3 separate regions of the Homo sapiens genome follow, and regions 2 and 3 are each linked to region 1. The links come from fine-mapping of genetic effects on plasma protein levels. A gene starts in region 1. Each other region holds a variant in brackets. All regions are shown on one strand. Distances are from middle to middle.

Region 1 (8,198 bases):
AGTCTCGTAACAGTCCTTAAGGTAGGTAAGAATTATTATTTTCATTGACAAATGATGAAGCTGCTGCCTGAAATGATTAAAAGATAATGCTCAAGGACATTCCAAATCCTTATTTTCACCAAATCAAGGAAAAGACAATGGAAAAGTTAGTGTTGTATTGGCCTGGGCATCCCTTTGATTACAGTCATTTAAAACAGATTTTTTTTTTTTTAATCATGGAAACTTTCAAACACGTAAAAGTAGAGAGAATAGTCAAATGAATCTTTAAGTACCACTGTTCAACTTCCACAGTTATTTTTTTTAATTTTTTTAAAATTATACTTTAAGTTCTAGGTTTAATGTGCAGGTTTGTTACATATGTATATATGTGCCATGTTGGTGTGCTGTACCCATTAACTCGTCATTTACATTAGGTATATCCCCTACTGCTATCCCTCCCCCCTCCCCCCACCCCACAACAGGCCCAGGAGTGTGATGTTCCCCTTCCTGTGTCCATGTGTTCTCATTGTTCAGTTCCCACCTATGAGTGAGAACATGTGGTGTTTGGTTTTTTGTCCTTGCGATAGTTTGCTGAGAATGATGGTTTCCAGCTTCATCCATGTCCCTACAAAAGACATGAACTCATCCTTTTTTATGGCTGCATAGTATTCCATGGTGTATATGTGCCACATTTTCTTAATCCAGTCTATCATTGATGGATATTTGGGTTGGTTCCAAGTCTTTGCTATTGTGAATAGTGCCGCAATAAACATACATGTGCATGTGTCTTTATAGCAGCATGATTTATAATCCTTTGGGTATATACCCAGTAATGGGATGGCTGGGTCAAATGGTATTTCTAGTTTAGATCCCTGAGGAATTGCCACACTGTCTTCCACAATGGTTGAACTAGTTTACAGTCCCACCAACAGTGTGAAAGTGTTCCTATTTCTCCACATGCTCTCTAGCACCTGTTGTTTCCTGACTTTTTAATGATTGCCATTCTAACTGGTGTGAGATGCTATCTCATTGTGGTTTTGATTTGCATTTCTCTGATGACCAGTGATGATGAGCATTTTCTCATGTGTCTGTTGGCTGCATAAATGTCTTCTTTTGAGAAGTGTCTGTTCATGTCCTTTGCCCACTTTTTGATGCGATTGTTTGTTTTTTTCTTGTAAATTTGTTTGAGTTCTTTGCAGATTCTGGATATTAGCCCTTTGTCAGATGAGTAGATTGCAAAAATTTTCTCCCATTCTGTAGGTTGTCTGTTCACTCTGATGGTAGTTTCTTTTGCTGTGCAGAAGCTCTTTAGTTTAATGAGATCCCATTTGTCAATTTTGGCTTTTGTTGCCATTGCTTTTGGTGTTTTAGTCATGAAGTCCTTGCCCATGCCTATGTCCTGAATGGTATTGCCTAGGTTTTCTTCTAGGGTTTTTATGGTTTTAGGTCTGACATTTAAGTCTTTAATCCATCTTGAATTAATTTTTGTATAAGGTGTAAGGAAGGGATCCAGTTTCAGCTTTCTACATATGGCTAGCCAGTTTTCCCAGCACCATTTATTAAATAGGGAATCCTTTCCCCATTGCTTGTTTCTGTCAGGTTTGTTGAAGATCAGATGGTTGTAGATGTGTGGTATTATTTCTGAGGGTTCTGTTCTGTTCCATTGGTCTATATCTCTGTTTTGGTACCAGTACCATGCTGTTTTGGTTACTGTAGCCTTGTAGTATAGTTTGAAGTCAGGTAGCATGATGCCTCCAGCTTTGTTCTTTTGGCTTAGATTTGTCTTGGCAATTCAGGCTCTTTTTTGGTTCCATATGAACTTTAAAGTAGTTTTTTCCAATTCTGTGAAGAAAGTCATTGGTAGCTTGATGGGGATGGTATTGAATCTACAAATTACCTTGGGCAGTATGGCCATTTTCACGATATTGATTCTTCCTATCCATGAACATGGAATGTTCTTCCATTTGTTTGTGTCCTCTTTTATTTCATTGAGCAATGGTTTGTAGTTCTTCTTGAAGAGGTCCTTCACATCCCCTGTAAGTTGGATTCCTGGGTATTTTATTCTCTTTGAAGCAATTGAACTTCCACAGTTATTAACCTTTGACAAATCTTCATATAACTTGTTAAGACATGGAGTCCAAAATACTGTTGGTAATGTAACCAAATTTGGAGATCATGGAGAGTAATTTATGCAGTGTGCTTTGAGTATGAACAATGTATATTCTGTATGTACAAGCCCAGAAAAGTAGCTGGAGACAAGAAGTGCTTAAAGATTAAATTAAATTTGTCTTGGGTGAGGCTATTACAATGATTCCTCATTTAAGCTCATCTTGACATTATTTTCACCATCGTAACCCCAGTTCCTGGTTCAATGCCTAGCATATAGTAGGTGCTCAAAAACTGTTGAATGAATGAGCCTGCTTAGCAGTTTAGATCTCAGCAGCATGAAGAAGCCCATGCATTGTAGTATAAGCAACCTTTGCAGAATGTTTCTTAATGTGTATCTGGTGCTTTCTATGTCCAAGATCTTTACTAGCTGTGTTGGGGCCTACTCCAAGTGCCTTACATGCAGTAACTCCTTTAATTCTTGTAAGAACCCTATGAAGAAGGTACTATTATAATTTTTTTTGTGTTTCATAGATAAGTTACTTGTAAGTTGGTAAAGATCACACAGATCATAAGCGGTAGATCTGGGAATAAAATCCAGAGTCTGTGCACTTAGCTACTACTCTGCTGTGGCATCTGAATAGCATCTATGGAACACTCAACACATTTGGGGCACTTTGCTAGGTGCCTTACTGTTGGGTTAACTCACAAAAGTCACTCCTTTGCAATGCCAGATAACGAGAGGGTGCTGCACATGGAACAGCCTTTCTTTCTTTCTTTTCTATCTTTTTTTTTTTTAACAGACTTTGCCATTTTTTTTGTGAACCTAAGGCACTTCTAAGTGCTGTGTGGGAGGGAATGTGGTAGACTGATTTCATTGAGACTCTGCCAAATTCTGGTCTTGCGGCCATCAAAGACGCATCATTTCCTCCAAGACTTCTAAAGGGGGCTATTACCACGGGCCTGCAGGTTCTGGTTTGCATTCAGAGGAGACACTATCTTCTTAAATGAGACATGGAAGAGGAAGTGTCATGAACTGTAAATAAGGCTGATAGGGAATTGTTTGGTGATGGGGATGGAGAAAAACTGCCCTCTCCAAACCAGGTTCCATCTCCCACCCCTTTATCCAACTTTGCCAGAGTCCATCCTATTTTATTTGCTGAGTTTACTAGCAGGAAGAGAGGAGTTTCTTTAAAGATTCTCTCCCCTCCCCAAATAAATACCTCCCAGATAAATATGAGTACATCTATATAGTAGAGCACTATGCCAACATTGAAAAGATGGAAGGATGGAGCTTTGTTCGCAGCCAGCTTAGGCAACATAGTGAGACCCTGCCTCTATATAAAAATAAATAAATAAATAAATAAATAAATAAATAAATAAAAGATGGAGCTTTAAAGGTTGATGTAGAACGAATCTCCAGTGTATATTATAAAGTGAAGGCTGGGCAGGGTGGCTCGTGCTTGTAATCCCAGCACTTTGGGAGACTGAGGCAGGAGGATGGACTGAGTCCAGGCATTGGAGACCAGCCTGGGCAACATAGTGAGACCTTGTCTCAAATAAATAAATCAAATTTAAAGGGAAAAAAGCCAAGGCTCAAATAGCATTTATACCAAGCAATTGTGGGAAGAGAAGGGTGACATGTCTACATACTTGTGTTTAAGAATCTGCTTGGAAAAAAAAGGAAACATAAAAATGCCTCTGCCAAAAGAAAAGTCTTTTCACTCTAAGCCTTTTTGTGTTTTTCCAAAATTTTTTTTTGCCATATACATTCATTATATTTCAGCATTAAAATATTTCACCTGTCAACTTGGAAAAGTAAAAGCGTGAATACAGTAAATATTTAAAAACAGATGAAGATAAGTAACAGGTTACATTAATTGTATACAATCAATCTAGTTTGAATTAGGTGTAGATATAATAATTCTGTGTGTTTATCTTGGTGAAGAATGGTCCTTTAGGTTGTCATTAAAAAGCACCTCTGGGAGGTAAAAGACATAGGCATCTGGAAGATTCATATTTAATGAAGTTAGGGGACATTTGATGTCACTCCCCAGGTGTGGGGAGATATGGACAGAAAACCAGAAGGAACGAATGTGGTCAGGAAGGAATTGGAGTTCCCCTCCAAACAGCTGCCACAAGAAGTCCACACACGTGGAGACAGTTGTGCAATTTGGTCACAGAGTGTCCTAGGTGCTTTTGCTTCATTGCTCCTCCACTGAAGCACGCTGGCAGCTGGCCTCCTTCCCCTGGGACTAAGGATATCTTGGCTGGAAGCTCTGCTCTGAAAAGGGGCATGGCCAAACTTTCACTAGGGCTCTTCGTTGGGGAGCACGATGGACAAAAGCCTTCTTGGGGCTAGGCAGGTCACTTCAAACTTGGAGCCGCCAAATATTTTGGGAAATAGCGGGAATGTTGGCGAACTGGGCAAGTGCGTTTTCTGATTAAGAGCAACCAGATTCAGCTTTTTAAACTACAATTATACTGGCCAAACAAAATACCCTTATACAAAAACCAAAACTACTGGCAGGAGTCGCTGCCAGCTTGCGACCCGGCATACTTGGCTGAGTATCCGCTTCTCCCTTGTGGCTCCAAACTGCTGCAGATTCTCGGCCACTTCAGACGCGCGCGATGGCGAAGAGGGTCCTGCACTTTGACGCGCCTGGTGAGGGAGCGCTGCTCTTCGCAGCGCTCCTGGTGATGCTCCCCAAATTTCGGGGACCGGCAAGCGATTAAATCTTGGAGTTGCTCAGCGCCCGTTACCGAGTACTTTTTATTTACACCAGAAACAAAGTTGTTGCTCTGGGATGTTCTCTCCTGGGCGACTTGGGGCCCAGCGCAGTCCAGTTGTGTGGGGAAATGGGGAGATGTAAATGGGCTTGGGGAGCTGGAGATCGCCGCCGGGTACCCGGGTGAGGGGCGGGGCTGGCCGCACGGGAGAGCCCCTCCTCCGCTCCGGCCCCGCCCCGCATGGCCCCGCCTCCGCGCTCTAGAGTTTCGGCACCAGCTCCCACCCTGCACTGAGTCCCGGGACCCCGGGAGAGCGGTCAATGTGTGGTCGCTGCGTTTCCTCTGCCTGCGCCGGGCATCACTTGCGCGCCGCAGAAAGTCCGTCTGGCAGCCTGGATATCCTCTCCTACCGGCACCCGCAGACGCCCCTGCAGCCGCGGTCGGCGCCCGGGCTCCCTAGCCCTGTGCGCTCAACTGTCCTGCGCTGCGGGGTGCCGCGAGTTCCACCTCCGCGCCTCCTTCTCTAGACAGGCGCTGGGAGAAAGAACCGGCTCCCGAGTTCTGGGCATTTCGCCCGGCTCGAGGTGCAGGATGCAGAGCAAGGTGCTGCTGGCCGTCGCCCTGTGGCTCTGCGTGGAGACCCGGGCCGCCTCTGTGGGTAAGGAGCCCACTCTGGAGGAGGAAGGCAGACAGGTCGGGTGAGGGCGGAGAGGACCTGAAAGCCAGATCTAACTCGGAATCGTAGAGCTGGAGAGTTGGACAGGACTTGACATTTTGCGATCTTTCATTTACCAGTGGGGAAACTGAGGCTCAGAGACTGGCCCAAGATTACCCAGCGAGTCTGTGGTCGCCTGTGCTCTAGCCCAGTTCCTTTTCTAGGACTCTGGTTTGCGACAGGGACCTCGGCTGGAGCATGTCCTGAGATGCCGACACACCCTCAGGCTCTTGGGAGGCTGGGGTGGGAAGGCGCCTGGGGTTGGCAGGCAGGAGGTGCCTCCGCAGGCGAGAACAGGCGGTGAAAAGTTGTCTGGCTGCGCGCAACATCCTAGTCCGGGCCCGGGGAAGAAAACCTTGCCGGAATCTCAGGCCGGGTCTCCCGGATCGGACGGTACACTCGGTTCTGCCTCTTTGCGGGACCCGGCCCGTTGTTGTCTTCATGCTCGAACACACTTGCACACCACTGTGTGAAGTGGGGTCTGGAGCGGAGAGAAACTTTTTTTCCTTCCTTGGTGCAGGACGCCGCTCTCCTTGCAGAGCGAAGAAGGGGGGGAATAGGGACTTGTCCTGGGGGCTTTGACAGCTTCCCCAAGGGTCTCCAAGTAACAGCCAACTGTCCTGCGTAAAGCATTGCACATCTTTCAAAGCGCTGTGGTCCTTGGTGTAAGCGCATAGTCAGAAGTTCAAGCTCCGAAAACCTTTCCTGTGGGCCTTGGTACCTAGCTTTAGTGCCATTCCTTCCTCTCCCTGCCGCCTAAAATTTCCGTCTCCTTCAATTAGGAACACACACGTTCTTCATGCAATAGCTGTCTGTCTTTTCTTCCTCACTTTCCTTTCTCTCTCAACCCCTTAGATAATATTTCTTTCCTGCAGCCAGTTTGCTGATATCCAGATTTCCACCCTTTGCAGGGTGAGAAAGGGGAAAGGGTCAGAGAAAGAAAAAAAAAAAGTCGAATAATTCAGGGAAAAAAATTTCTTACTCCCTAAGACAAGAATCACATGTCTTAGAAGACACTCACACCCACATACAGTACCAGGATCATCTGTCCATGGTTACTGAATTTTCTTTATAATGACTTGGTTCAACGGGTCCAGTCCACCATGGACACTCATTTGTCCCAGACAAGCCCTCTCTCTCCCCCTTTCTGGGCAGAGAATGAAGGTCTGGAACATGTGGTTGCTCTGTATTCCACAAAGAAGTGAGTTGCTTTTAAGCCTGGGGTGTTTCCTAGCGTAGTAGTAACGGCAGGCCGGTCGCCCTGAATATAATGGTGAACTTGCCCTTTTGGAGTGCATTACTTGCTTAATTGGATTGGGCTGTAATTGGTGCCATCAAATTCTAGAGACAGAGGCACTGTTGTTTTTCCTTCCCGTCTTTGAGCTGGAAGGGTAACAGTGCACAAATTAATTAATATTGGTTATGGGATTTGAACATAGAAGGGCTTTTTATTGAGTAGTAGCATGTGTACCTCTTACAGTTATTTCTTTAGAACTTTCTGAAGAGTCCAGCTCAAGCTTGCCAATGAAAACGAATGACATTTAATGGAGCAAAAACAAAAAACAAAAAACTATGTTGGTCTACAAATATGAATTTGAAGTTATTGAGAGCCTTGTTGAATAGATTTTTGTTGTAAACGTGTCTCTAGAATAGTATGGCATAGTCTCAGCTTCCTATGAATGAAGGACATACCTTTTCTTTTTTAAAATATTTGTTACACAGGAAAGTGTGTCTAGAATGTGATCTGTGGCAATAAATTATGAGAGACCTTCAAGAGTTTCTGATTTTGGTAGCCGAGTGGGCACAGTTTATTGAGAATCATTTTTACTGCCATTTGTTTTCTCACAAGAATGTGCCCAAATAATGGTTTTTTTCTCATTTGGATGGCAGTGTGAATTGTACATCATGTTTTCAGCATCTTTCTCAACCTAGTGTTCCCCAGTCAAGTTTGAAATCTGTGTTATCCAAATGAATTGTTTTCATTTTCCTTTTCTTAGACAAAGTGGGACTCCAGGTTTCATTTTGCTTTTAAACATTTTGGTTTTTTGTTTGCCTGTTTTGGGGGCAGTTATTTCTTTCATATTAAAAAGTACTGTGCAGGCTGGGTGCAGTGGCTCATTCCTGTAATCCCAGCACTTAGGGAAGCAGAGGCAGGAGGATCGCTTGAGTCCAGGAGTTCAAGAAGTGCCTGGGCAACATAGCGAGACCCCATTCTCTATTTAAAACATAAATGTAACCCCCGTTCCACGCACAAAGTACTGTGCAAATTAATTAAACATGACCACCCAGACCAGCAACTGTCCAAGAGTGGCCCATAGACCATCTGTGGTAGGATAATTTGAAATGCTTGTTAAAATGCAGATTTGTAGACCCAGGGATATTCTGACAGAGTCTAAAGTCTTAAGAACAAAACTGTTCTAAACATAAGTCAGTACCAATGCCAGTTAATTTCTGAGATATATTGATATAACTTAGTTTCCAGTTTTTTAAAAACCATATTATTGACTTAAAAACCATGATATTGACCAGTTATGTCAGTAACTTATTTTGCACATCTGTGTGGTGTGTGAGAACATGTGCAGTCACTTATTCATTTTGCCTGCATTTGTTCATATTGGGATCCTCAGATTCAATGCACTGGATGTTTGCACTGGGTATTTACTTATAC
Region 2 (8,198 bases), 28 kb after region 1:
GTGATGGGATTACCAGCTAGTATCACTAATATGAATGTTAAAAGCCATTAATCTGTTTGCAGTGTCCTGACTGACTTGTTTCATTTAACTTTACCCAGTGACCAGTGTATTTTCCCAGAAGTTAATATATCAACAAGTTCCTTTTTACTAAATTTAAACTGTTTAAAAGTTTGCTGATACCAGAACCATTTCAAAAGTTATAATTCCATGTTCTGTGATTTTCTTTTTGTGTGTCTAGAGCGTGTGGCACCCACGATCACAGGAAACCTGGAGAATCAGACGACAAGTATTGGGGAAAGCATCGAAGTCTCATGCACGGCATCTGGGAATCCCCCTCCACAGATCATGTGGTTTAAAGATAATGAGACCCTTGTAGAAGACTCAGGTAAATAGAATTTGGCTATCACTCTTGGGTTGCAGAACTTTCCCAGGGATGTTATCTAAAAAGCCATATTATTTCTTGATGTAATGTAGAAAAAAAGCAGTATTGGTGTCCATGACCTGGCTCATTTCACAGACTTAGAATTGGAGTATGGGGCCCTGTTGAATTTTCATGAAAGCCATATAGGAGATTAGTCAGCAGTAGATCCCATGTGACTCTACAGAGTTAGATAATAGAACAAGATGAAGGGCAGCATTTATATTTTCTAAATTTCCCTGAAAAACTTCACAGACTACATCATCATAAATGAGAATGATCGTTTTCTTCCTCTGTTAGGCATTGTATTGAAGGATGGGAACCGGAACCTCACTATCCGCAGAGTGAGGAAGGAGGACGAAGGCCTCTACACCTGCCAGGCATGCAGTGTTCTTGGCTGTGCAAAAGTGGAGGCATTTTTCATAATAGAAGGTCAGTGGGATAAAAAAAAATGTGGTACATATACACCATGGAATGCTATGCAGCCGTAAAAAGGAATCTGATCATGTCCTTTGCAGCTGCATGGATGGAGCTGGAAGCCATTATCCTCAGCAAACTAACACAGGAACAGAAAACCAAACGCCACACATTCTCACTTATAAGTGGGAGCTGAACAATGTGAACACATAGACACAGGGAAGGGAACAACACACACTGGGGCCTACTGTGGGTTGGGGAGAAGGAGAGCATCAGGAAAAATAGCTAATGCATGCTGGGCTTAATACCTAGGAGATGGATTAATAGGTGCAGCAAATCACCATGGCACATGTTTACCTGTGTAACAAACCTGAGCATTCTGCACATGTATCCCGGAACTTAAAAGAAAAAAAGAAGGTCAGTGGGAAGTCATAGATACATCCTGTGGTTTTTGAAGATTAGTTTGTATCTTATAGACACACATTCACTTTGAATAGGGCAACGACAGATGATTTTTAATATTCTTTGTACTTTGTAAATTTTCTCAGTGAGTATGTATTCTTTTAACCAGCAAACATAATTAATGTTGTTATAATTCTGCTTGCATCACATTTCCTATTCCTGCAGTTCTTATTGTGGAAAAATTCTTAATCAGGCAGGATGAATAGCCTCTTCTCCCTGATTCTGTCTTTGTTTGAATGGCTTGATTAACTTATAGAAATGATGCCTTTATATTTATTTGGAAAAACATTAGAATTGCTGCCTAATCATGGCAGTCAATGCTATCCAGATAGTCACAAGGATTCCGAGTTTTAATTGGACTAGAGATAATTAAGATTCACTTGTGAACAATAGACCATTGCTCTTCTGACATGGAAAATTTTTGGTTTTTATCTCAATACGTGTGTATGCAGAAGTGATGTGAAATCTGTCATTTTCTTAGCTAGGAAAAGTAATTTGTGGCAGAATATTTTATCTTAAGAAGTATATTCCTATGGCTTTTTTTTTTATAGCCCACCAGGGAAAGAATAAAACTGTGTTGTGGGGTAAAAGAATGGTATGCAAGGGTAAGAAAGAAGTATGGTGATAGAAGGGATCGATGGATTTCTATGAACTCATCCTAACTTGTCTCTCAAAGTCTAGATTTTGGTCCCTTTACTCTGCCAAATCTATGATGCCAAGTATTGCATCGAGATATGTTGACATATTTTCAAATGTATAAGCTTATTAGCATTTCATAAACTACACTTGCAAATAAAGATTTCAAAGACCATGGCGGTTTTGTCATTTCCAAAGTGATTCATGTTTTAGGGCAAATC[C/T]GCAGAATGACGTCTAGATTGTCTCTGATGCTCTGCATTACCTCTTGTTGGTGGCCTGCAGCTGGTTACAGATGCCTAACTAGGTAACACTGGCACAGAGATTATAGTTACTTCTTACCTGGAGTGAATGCTAAGAAAGGCAGAGCTAGATATTTAATACTCCTGCTGGGTTCCCAAATGTTATGCGAGAATATTAATATACAAACACATAGAAAACAGACTCTTTGAACTTTTTATCCTCTATGTTCAACTGGACTTTTAAATCTGTGTGTATAAATAGAGAATTACTTCCCTAGGACCACCAGAGAAACAAAATTTACTCCAAGCATAATTGTGCTTGTCTCTCAATGGTTAAGTTAACTTTTATTTTGCAAACCAATTTGTTACTTATTTTGCAAACCAGTTTCTTACTTGTCTTCTTCTCTCTTGAGGCCGTAGTGGGCCATCCGCACAGCTTGTGGCCCGGTTTGATTCTCCTTGCACTCTTCTGATGGGAGGCCCCAAGTGATGACTGCTTCCTTATCATCTCTTTGCTAATCACTCTTAGTGGAAAGCCTGTTTCTGTATTTTGTTTCTTCCACTCAGAGCTGTCCTCTGAAGCCCTGAGCATCTGCAGCTTTGCTTGCTGACTTCTAGTTTCCTCTTCTCTTTCCTTTCATGAGTGATTTGAAACTCCCATTACCAGGCCATGCGTGATGTGCTCATCTTGGCTCTTCCTCTTCTCCTCACTCAGACTCCTGCCACAAGGGATGGGGTAGTGTATGTAATGGTTAGTTCATGTTGGACAGGCCTCTTTATCTCTTGACTGAACCACTGACTAGCTGTGTGCCCTCAGTCAAGTAGCTTAAGCTCTCTGGTCTTCTGTTTCTTCATCTGAAAACTGAGAGTTGTTGAGGAGATTAAGTGGAATGGCATATTTAAAGTGATGAGTGCATAGTAGATACATGGTCATTAGTAACTCTCAGGTCAAAAAATTTTGTTTATTTCCCTACTTGGTTTCTTATGTGATCCTTTTGCAAACTCTGCACAGATCAAAATATTGACTATCAGTTTAAAAGAAGACTTTTGTTTTCCTCAAATAGAAATATTTTTTTTTCTCTGTAGAGAATGATCTGTTTTCTTTCCATCAAAGACTGCTCTTCCTCTAAACACTTTCTATGTTTGGCTTTTAAGACATTACTACTTCTATGCTTAATTACTTAAGAATTTTATTGTTGTAAGTTTACATGAGCAATGTTTTGCAAGCTTTAAATTTTCCATTAACAATTCTGTAGGCCAGGTGTGGTGGCTTATGCCTGTAATCCCTGCACTTTGGGAGGCCAAGGCAGGGGGGATGGCTAGAGGCCAGGAGTTCGAGACTAGCCTGGGCAATGTAGTGAGACCCTGTCTCTACAGAAAATAAAAGAAAAATTAGCTGGGCTTGGTGGTATGCACCTGTAGTCCCAGCTACTCGGGAGGCTGAGGGGGGAGAATCGCTTGAGCCTAGGAATTGGAGGCTGCAATAAGCTATGATTGTGTCATGGTACTCCAGCCTGGAACATAGAAAGAAACCCTGTCTCTAAAAATAAATAAATAAATAAATAAATAAATAAATAAATAAATAAATAAATTAAATTCAAAAAAAGAATTCTGTAGACTCCATTCAAGTTACGGGTGTGTAACTGTTGTCCTCTAGGATTTTTCCAAGTTGGTAAGCTTGGGATTTTGCTTTAGTGCTAAAATTTGTCATCTTACAAACAAAAAGTATAAGTTTCCAACTGTTGATACTCATTCAATTGTGTCTTTCCAGGTGCCCAGGAAAAGACGAACTTGGAAATCATTATTCTAGTAGGCACGGCGGTGATTGCCATGTTCTTCTGGCTACTTCTTGTCATCATCCTACGGACCGTTAAGCGGGTAAAAAAATAATTTCCCTTCTGCCCATGCACATTGGTTTTCATGATTAATGAAAACTGACTGGGGTTCTTTGAGTTGTTTCTTCCCATTGTTATTGGCTCAATGGGCACATTTTTATTTCAATACAATAACGTTCCTGCCCACTTTCTTTTGGCTGGATCTCAGGGATTTAATTGATAGAAGCCACTAGAGAGGAAAAGGGCTTGGACTGTCTAGTGTAATTAAGCTTTAAAACCTTAATTCTGAGCTCCTTTGGGGGACAAGGGAAACTAGAAGCAGGGTTATAATAGGACCACTCTCAAACTCCATGAGTTTTATTGGAAAATGAGACAGGAATGAGGCTCCAATAAACAGCAATAACAAGCACACAAAACAACAGCCAAACAACAGTGTGTTTATGACTGGAAGGATTGATGCTTTCCAGGCCAATGGAGGGGAACTGAAGACAGGCTACTTGTCCATCGTCATGGATCCAGATGAACTCCCATTGGATGAACATTGTGAACGACTGCCTTATGATGCCAGCAAATGGGAATTCCCCAGAGACCGGCTGAAGCTAGGTGCATTTTCAATTGCTATTAATTTGATATTGTGTTTACCAGGCCATCTCTTCCTCCATTAGAATGATGACAAATGTGGTGTATTCAGATGTTGGATTCTGGTTTAGAAATATTAATTCCATTTCTTGAATTTGTATAATCATTCATATAGCCACTTAGAGGTAGGGTCCCTATGTAATCATCCAAAGCAGGACATTTGGAGAGTGAAGGGGGAGTTATTAAATAATTAAGCCAGGACAAAGGAGTAAACTGGACTATCCATGTTAAATTGGGATGTATGGTCACCCTATCTAGTTGATGTCTCTGCGTATCACTTTGGTTGTATAGTAATCCAAGTCTGTTTTCTTGTTGCTGTTGTTGTTGACTCTAGGTAAGCCTCTTGGCCGTGGTGCCTTTGGCCAAGTGATTGAAGCAGATGCCTTTGGAATTGACAAGACAGCAACTTGCAGGACAGTAGCAGTCAAAATGTTGAAAGGTAAAAGCAAAATTATGTGGTGATCTATCTTTCTGTTTTATCTAGTCTTTAAATATGTTGCAAGGCTTGTATCAGTAGCTTTGTGCTTATGTGGGCCTACTAGCCACACATGCAGTCAGCCTAAATAATGCCCTTGTGCAAATTGGAAAAAGGATCCTCCTTTGTAGCTTTATGCCAGGATGCATGGTCTGGCAAGCAAAGTTGGGAATGGCTTTCACCTTCTTGCCTGGTTACCCTCGTGCAGGGCTCAGCCAACACAGTTGTACTTAGTGGTTCTGGGTACAGGGAAAAAGGACTGTGGTTATATTAAAATTGTTTCTTAATATATTGTGGAATCAGATAATTATAGACCATCTAGAGACATGGAAAGGAAGATAGTGAAATACAAAAATAGCATGTTCTCCAGAATTGGAATATGTAAAAGATGTTCATATGTAAAAGATAATTTGCAAAACAAGAATGGTTGTGTTAGAAAAAAATATAATGGGTTATATTTTTTAAATTAAAAGCTTTATAAATAATTGTTAATTCTAATAGTAACGGAATTCTGGTCTGGCCATTTTCATTTTAGGAGGTTAGACAGTAAAGCTTCTTTCTTCAATTGTGATGTTCTTTCATTGATGAAGGCAGTGCCAATGACCCTTTGCCAATAGGTTTTGTGCATTTCAAAGCTATCTTTCTCCATCTGCCTTTTTTCTCTTGTGGCCAAGGGAGTGTGTAATTTTGAGGTGGCTCATCAGAGCCTTAGATGTGGACCATGCCTGTGAATTAGTGGGAAGTGTAGCAGTCCATACAGGATCAAACACATAGTCTTAGTGCCATCAGCCTCATGTGCCAACTGGTCTTTCCAGCTGGCCTTAATTCGCCTGCACAGATCGGCACAGATTGGCTGGAACATTCGGTATAGCCCCTAACACGTGAAGATATTTAATACATGGTGTTGCTTCCTTATGAGGAAGTGCTGAAATGATCAGACCCTCAGAATCATAGTGAACCTGAAATGCAAAAATCCAGTTTTGCAGAAGAAGAGAATCTGGGCATGATTCCACTGCAGATGTATTCTCCGCTTTGCAAAAGGTTTCACAATGGGTTCCTTTAAATATCAAACTTTCTGGCTCACTTAAAATATGAATTTTATTTCAAATTAGAAAATAGAATTTACACTTCACTTTTGAGGAAATGCATGTGGTCTGTAAACTAGGTCACAGCTGTGTTACCCCGGAGGGTAAGTTGTATAGTGGCATGCAGGGAGGGAGGGACCCCAATTATTGAAGGAAATGTCCATACCTATGATTTCCCTCTTTGTACTGTATTTGTAGAAGGAGCAACACACAGTGAGCATCGAGCTCTCATGTCTGAACTCAAGATCCTCATTCATATTGGTCACCATCTCAATGTGGTCAACCTTCTAGGTGCCTGTACCAAGCCAGGAGGTGAGTAACTGTGGGTGGTTTTGGTCACCCAATTTTAACATGCCTCTCTGATAGTGTTTGAGGGAAAGCAGTCAACTCCTCTGGCCTTGATTTTCTTAGCTTAGAATACTTTGCGGATTCCTAGGAATAAATATATTTCATGGAGGTTTAATTGGCACTAGAATTAAATTATTGTAAAACTTTCTCTGAATTAAGAAATGTCATGCTACTATGATACAGTTTGTTACTTGTGTAACAGATGTCCAGAGAAGAGTAAACTTCCCTAAAACTTGAAAGCTTAAGGGTAGTTACCCCCAAAATGGAATCATATCAGGAGATTGCACTGAAAAGCAAGTAGATGGGTGGGTTTTCTTCTGAAATTTTGGTTAATCTTGTGAAAATGTGTTCTGGAAAAAAGAAAAGCTACAATATAAGGGGATTGGGACCAGCTGATTTCTACACTCCTGTCCCAATGAAAGGTTGTAGCCTTCTTCTAAGGTGTTTTTGGGTTCATCACTATATTAAACGCTTAGTGAGGAATATGAGTGAAAACCCATTTTCCTTCCTGGACATGCTGCCTGCAGGGCCACTCATGGTGATTGTGGAATTCTGCAAATTTGGAAACCTGTCCACTTACCTGAGGAGCAAGAGAAATGAATTTGTCCCCTACAAGGTATGTCATCTCCTAATCCTGCTCTGGCCATGTTATAAAATGAAGGGAAACTCAAAATGGTACAGGTTAGTTTTTTAGTTGAAATTTTGTGAAGAACTTGTGAGGAATCTTCTCATATTACCTCTTGGCTGTTGTAACTTCCTCTTTTACCTTCTGGGGGCCATATGTTTCTGTTTTATGTATGTGATTTTAATCTACTGACCCATTACAGAGTGTGGACATGGGGGAGAAGGCAGGTATGAGCGAGGAAAGGGGAGGGCAGAGGGTAGGACATCTCTGGGTTATTCTGTCTCTCCCCTAGCCATATTTGGCCCCGTGGAGTGTAAATCCCTCTGTGAAGAGCATCCTAATGCTGAAAGTGTGTCTGAATGCAACTCAAAATGTGGCATTTGTCACTTTAAGCTAAAGAAGGAGCTAGGCTTTGTGGAAGAAACCCTATTATGCACAAAACTTGCCCCAAGTTTCAGCTCAGAGATTGCATAATCCTGAAATTGATGTCCTCCTTGTCTGCTTTTTAGTAGTTTCAATTATCTCCATGGTTTACTACATTTTAAAGGTTGTAAACTTTTAAAGACTCATTTTGTATTCAAGGAGTTTGTTTGTTCCTTTGCTTTTTTATAGACCAAAGGGGCACGATTCCGTCAAGGGAAAGACTACGTTGGAGCAATCCCTGTGGATCTGAAACGGCGCTTGGACAGCATCACCAGTAGCCAGAGCTCAGCCAGCTCTGGATTTGTGGAGGAGAAGTCCCTCAGTGATGTAGAAGAAGAGGAAGGTACTGGCTAGTGCTTCCTGCATGCTATGGCATGCTCTTGTCAGAGCAGACAGGGTGATAGGGTGTTACAAGGAATTTGATCATGGGAAAAGTCCAATACTACCTCATAATTTGAAAGAGACCTGAATTTCTATAATAGACTGCCTCCATTCTGTCTCCCCAAAAGTGAAGTGTGGAAGCCCTAGACTGGGAAGTGAAGCAGGGCTAGCCTGAGAAATCTGGGTAGTCCAAGTGGGCTAAGCAGTCGGCTACA
Region 3 (4,971 bases), 21 kb after region 1:
CGTATAAAGCTGTGGACAGTAATAGTGGTTGTGAGGATTAAGTGAATGAATTCATGCAAAGCACTTCAAACAATGCTTGGCACATAATAAATGTATTTACTGTGCTATTTCAGCTGTTTTCTGTAGCCTTTCCCTGATCTCCTAAACTTGAGAGGACAGAGAGAACTATCTCTGTAATACAGATGAGAGGCACAGGATTTCAACACTTCCATAAAGTCATTCAGCTTGTTAGTTTATTATTATTATTAGCTTATTGTCATTTTTATTTTATTTCGTTACTTTATTCCTTTTTTTTTTTTTTGGTAGAGATGGGGTCTCACCATGTGGCCCAGGCTGGTCTTGATCTCCTGGGCTTAAGCGATCCACCTACCTTGGCGTCCCAAAATACTGAGATTACAGGCATAAGCCCCCATGCCTGGCTAGTTGTTATTTTTATGAGTATCACTAGAACTCAGGTCTCTTGTTTCCACATCTAGGTGTTCTTCGAAAAAGAAAGTGGAAGCAAAATCATATGCTTAAAGAAAGTCAGCTTTAGTTGCTAAAATCCTCTATTTCCCATTCTTCAAAGCTGACTGACAATTCAAAAGTTGTTTTTCCCATCTTCAGTCCCACCCCAGATTGGTGAGAAATCTCTAATCTCTCCTGTGGATTCCTACCAGTACGGCACCACTCAAACGCTGACATGTACGGTCTATGCCATTCCTCCCCCGCATCACATCCACTGGTATTGGCAGTTGGAGGAAGAGTGCGCCAACGAGCCCAGGTGAGTAAGGCCACATGCTCTTTGCTTTCCTGCCATCTTGCATTTCTTACAGCTGAGCTATGATATGACTCCATCCTAAATGGAGAAGCCTAAACCAAAAAAAGTTTTCTCTCAAGAGGTAGCCTGAATCTCCATCCATCTTTCTCTGTGTCTTACATTTTAGGGGATGTCTTTGCTTGGAGTATCCTCCTTTGGGGTTAGCTAAGCTCAGCCTTGTTAGGTTAGCCGTGAGGTACACTTCTCCAAACACAGGCTATTTGCTCAGTTTGCTAATTGCCAGTCTTTGGTTTTTCTCCCGATACCAATCGGCTGGTGAATACCACATCCCTCCTTCTTGTGTGTGTGAAGATCCATCTCTCAGAGGAAATGCTGATAGATGAGAGGCAGTGATAGACCCAGCCCCAGTCCTCAGGGTCTCAGGCCCAGCTTATCATGCTCTGACACAAGTCCAGACATCCTTAGGGAAAAACACAACAACAGCAGCCAACCCACCACCACCCTAAGCAGTCCACTTCCTGTTGTTGTTTTTGAAATGGCCACTATGAGCTTCTTCCTCAGCTGCTGATCATTTCCTTCACAGAGACCATGGTCCCAGAGAAATTACTTTAAGGAGCCCAGTGGCTTCTAAGTTTCCTTGCCTTCCTTTGAACTAAATTAACTTGAATTGTCTTGTCGATCCAATTTATGAATGAAGGTTTATTCCCAGAATAGCTGCTTCCCTCCTGTATCCTGAATGAATCTACCTAGAACCTTTTCCTTCATTGTCAATGCCTATTTTTAATTGGCGCCAAGTCTTGTACCATGGTAGGCTGCGTTGGAAGTTATTTCTAAGAACAGAATAACCAAAGTCTGAATCTTTTCCTTACTCTTGACTCTAATTAAAGAAAAATTAAATCATAATATGCGCTGTTATCTCTTTCTTATAGCCAAGCTGTCTCAGTGACAAACCCATACCCTTGTGAAGAATGGAGAAGTGTGGAGGACTTCCAGGGAGGAAATAAAATTGAAGTTAATAAAAATCAATTTGCTCTAATTGAAGGAAAAAACAAAGTGAGTTTGAAGTTTTAAAATTTGAAAATCTCTCTCTCTTTAATGGAAGGATGGTACAATAATATGTGAGGCATATTGGAGATTAATAATCAAATAGTCTGGATGATTAAATAGAGCGTATTAAGTCACTTTGAAAATACCATTGACTTTTAGCAGTACCATTAACTTATTAATAGCTTATCAGAGAAAAATAAAAACATCTATGACATTAAATCTATGCATCTGTGTAGGGTGATTCTGATTTTATAAACATGAGAATGAAAAAATGTGTATCATATCATATTAAAACACATCATTAGTTTCATGGCTTCCAAAGCCCTTTTTATATAATGTGTGAGCTCCACAGCAGCATAATTATACAAATTGAGTAAATATCCCAAACCTAAAAACCCCAAATCCAAAATGCTCCAGATTCTGAACCTTTTTGAGTGCCGACATGGTGCTCAAAGGAAACGCTCGTTGGAGCATTTTGGATTTTCAGATTAGGGATGCTCAACTGGTAAGTATACAATGCAAATATTCCAAAATCCAAAAAAAAAAATCCAAAATCCAAACCACTTTTGGTCCCAAGCGTTTTGAGTAAGGGATACTCAACCTGCAATTGCATAAATTTGAGCGTGTCCAACCGCTGCAGAAGTGGGAATGGCATAGGCAGGTTGGAGTGATTGTGGAGACTGCTGGACTGAGTGCTTGTGCACAAACAGCCGCGTTGTTTATGGCCTGGGATTTGTTTTTTCCCCGCACAGACTGTAAGTACCCTTGTTATCCAAGCGGCAAATGTGTCAGCTTTGTACAAATGTGAAGCGGTCAACAAAGTCGGGAGA[G/A]GAGAGAGGGTGATCTCCTTCCACGTGACCAGTAAGTACTCTTCTCTGGAGGTTTGGGTTGGATCACTCACACAGTGGGTACTAAGCTATGTAATTCCCTGTTGTTTTTGCCATTCATGTGAGTGGCATGGCATTTAGGAAAGAGGACTTGGATTGATCATTGATGCTTTCATTCATAAATTACAACTTCTCAGGTATCTCCTGGGCTTATGTGAAGTCAGTGCGTCTAACTACACTGGAGAGAGAATGGTTTCACAGATGCTTTAAACCACAAGCTCTGTGTGGTATTTACATCTCAGTCTTCAGAGTCTGGCACAGTGCCTGGCTTATTGAGCTTCAGTACATATTGGTGGGCTTGCTGTGGAACAGTTGATGAGGGTGGGCTTTATGGAGGCAATCAGAAGGACATAGGAGCAGTGCCCTCCCAATGCTGCCGATTTTGCCTGTGCATCTTAGTTTTATGGATAAGCTTTAGCTGATTGTGCTGAATGGAATATTATAGCCAGGGCTAATTCATTGGCATAAATGTAGCTTTCATATCATTGAGTGTTAGTGTTAATGAAGACCTAATTTTAAAATTCTGTTAGAATTAGAGATTTTGCTTTGGATTTTTAATATATTAAACATTGCGTAGAGCTCATAGTGGAGATGTGGTAAATATCTGAGGAATTCGTTTACATTTTCAAGTAATGTGTTTGGCCAAATAAGATATTTTGGGACCTGAATTGTCTAGTTTGTTTGTCAAGTTGTAGTACATCACCTGGAACGGATAGAGCTTCATTTCTTTTGGTACTTTGTAGTAGTCTGAAAGCAGCAAGATGATAGTGAGCTGTACCAAGTTAAATCACCATTCAATAACTATGGCCTCTTCATTTTAGGGGGTCCTGAAATTACTTTGCAACCTGACATGCAGCCCACTGAGCAGGAGAGCGTGTCTTTGTGGTGCACTGCAGACAGATCTACGTTTGAGAACCTCACATGGTACAAGCTTGGCCCACAGCCTCTGCCAATCCATGTGGGAGAGTTGCCCACACCTGTTTGCAAGAACTTGGATACTCTTTGGAAATTGAATGCCACCATGTTCTCTAATAGCACAAATGACATTTTGATCATGGAGCTTAAGAATGCATCCTTGCAGGACCAAGGAGACTATGTCTGCCTTGCTCAAGACAGGAAGACCAAGAAAAGACATTGCGTGGTCAGGCAGCTCACAGTCCTAGGTAGGGAGACAATTCTGGATCATTGTGCAGAGGCAGTTGGAATGCCTTAAATGTAGTGCAATTCAGGTGCTATGCAAAGATTACTGTCCTCTAGGAGATTATGTTGTAAACTGGTGCACACTTCTTCACCGAAAGTCCTTGAGGAAGAAAGAAGCTAATAATAATGAAATGATATATCGAAAGGAGAAAATAACAAAACCTGATGATGGAGTAATTCACTAGTATATGCAAGGGATATTAGCTTGAACCAGGGAAACTTCTGCCTTATCTTGGGCATCCATTTATTTAAATAGACAAATATTTGTGGAATGCCTGCTATGAGCTAGGAGAGTGTCAGAAATTCACAGTGGTAAACATGAAGGAAAGGAGGAGAACATAGGCAACCACTGGGAAGTCACAGCACAGTGAGGTCTCTGTGTCCATGAGAACAGGAATTGTTCTCTGTTTTGCTCCCTGCTATAGCTCTAGTCATAGAGCATAGCAGCATATACTAACTGCTCAATAAGGCACCTGCTGCATGAAGAGTGGGATGATGGGCTGCGTTTAAGACCTAGAAGACTCCATGGGAAGGAAGCTACATTCACTGTCTGTACCTCTGGGTCATCCCACATGATCCAGCGTAGCCCAAGGTCAATGGGACGATCACTTCAGTGAGCAGATAGCTCTGTAAATTCCTCCATAGAGGCACTGTCTACCCCTTGTCTAACCTCATGCCTTGTGCAAAAGCTGGGCAGCCATGGCTTTGTCTGTGGGAAAATCAGGCAAATTTGGGGAGCGTCTCTTTGTGCCACTTCTCTCCATTTTCTCCTCTTGTGGTGTCCCTTTCCAATTCCTAGGATATATGTGCCCTCTGTTTTTTTTTTACTGTTAGGAAGGAAATTGCCCAAGTAAATTCATCTATACCACAGTTTTAGAGGGTAACGTCTTCATCAGAGGCCTTGGCGTATTTGAAGAGGCACCTTCTGACAGACACTAGCATAAAGTTCGCTAGTTTTAAGACTCAGGTGTCATAATAAGAGATACTTTGGGGTCAAGTCATCCCCAGCATCCTTCAAGTCACACCACATAGATCACATGGATTTTCTGTTGGCTTGTCTGGCTTCAAGGTTATGGC

Alleles and levels. Alleles are on the strand shown, and positions count from the first base shown. The strength of an association depends on the size of the effect and on how common the allele is.
As copies of C replace T in region 2, the plasma level of the protein whose gene starts at base 5,105 in region 1 goes down (moderate association).
As copies of A replace G in region 3, the plasma level of the protein whose gene starts at base 5,105 in region 1 goes down (weak association).

Evidence for each region. PIP is the chance, under the fine-mapping model, that this variant and not a neighbour inherited with it causes the effect. The UK Biobank Pharma Proteomics Project read protein levels with antibody pairs (Olink). The fine-mapping took linkage between variants from a reference panel, not from the people measured, so its PIPs are less certain.
Region 2: its variant is fine-mapped to the plasma level of the KDR protein (UK Biobank, PIP above 0.99).
Region 3: its variant is fine-mapped to the plasma level of the KDR protein (UK Biobank, PIP above 0.99). The variant lies in the coding sequence of KDR. If it changes the protein, the assay may bind it differently, which can mimic a change of level.

What each region holds. Positions count from the first base shown.
Region 1 is chr4:55,122,502-55,130,699 of GRCh38, reverse strand. It overlaps KDR (kinase insert domain receptor), which reads left to right and starts at 5,105. Exons shown (of 30, transcript NM_002253.4): 1 at 5,105-5,473. The coding sequence starts at 5,407.
Region 2 is chr4:55,094,549-55,102,746 of GRCh38, reverse strand. It overlaps KDR (kinase insert domain receptor), which reads left to right. Exons shown (of 30, transcript NM_002253.4): 14 at 239-385; 15 at 719-850; 16 at 3,944-4,050; 17 at 4,475-4,610; 18 at 4,981-5,085; 19 at 6,405-6,518; 20 at 7,082-7,170; 21 at 7,792-7,945. Among named protein-coding and RNA genes, the nearest start is that of KDR, 27 kb to the left of the region's middle. The variant C/T (reference allele first, on the strand shown) is at 2,155.
Region 3 is chr4:55,103,529-55,108,499 of GRCh38, reverse strand. KDR (kinase insert domain receptor) reads left to right here. Exons shown (of 30, transcript NM_002253.4): 10 at 607-763; 11 at 1,690-1,813; 12 at 2,560-2,668; 13 at 3,516-3,857. Among named protein-coding and RNA genes, the nearest start is that of KDR, 20 kb to the left of the region's middle. The variant G/A (reference allele first, on the strand shown) is at 2,638.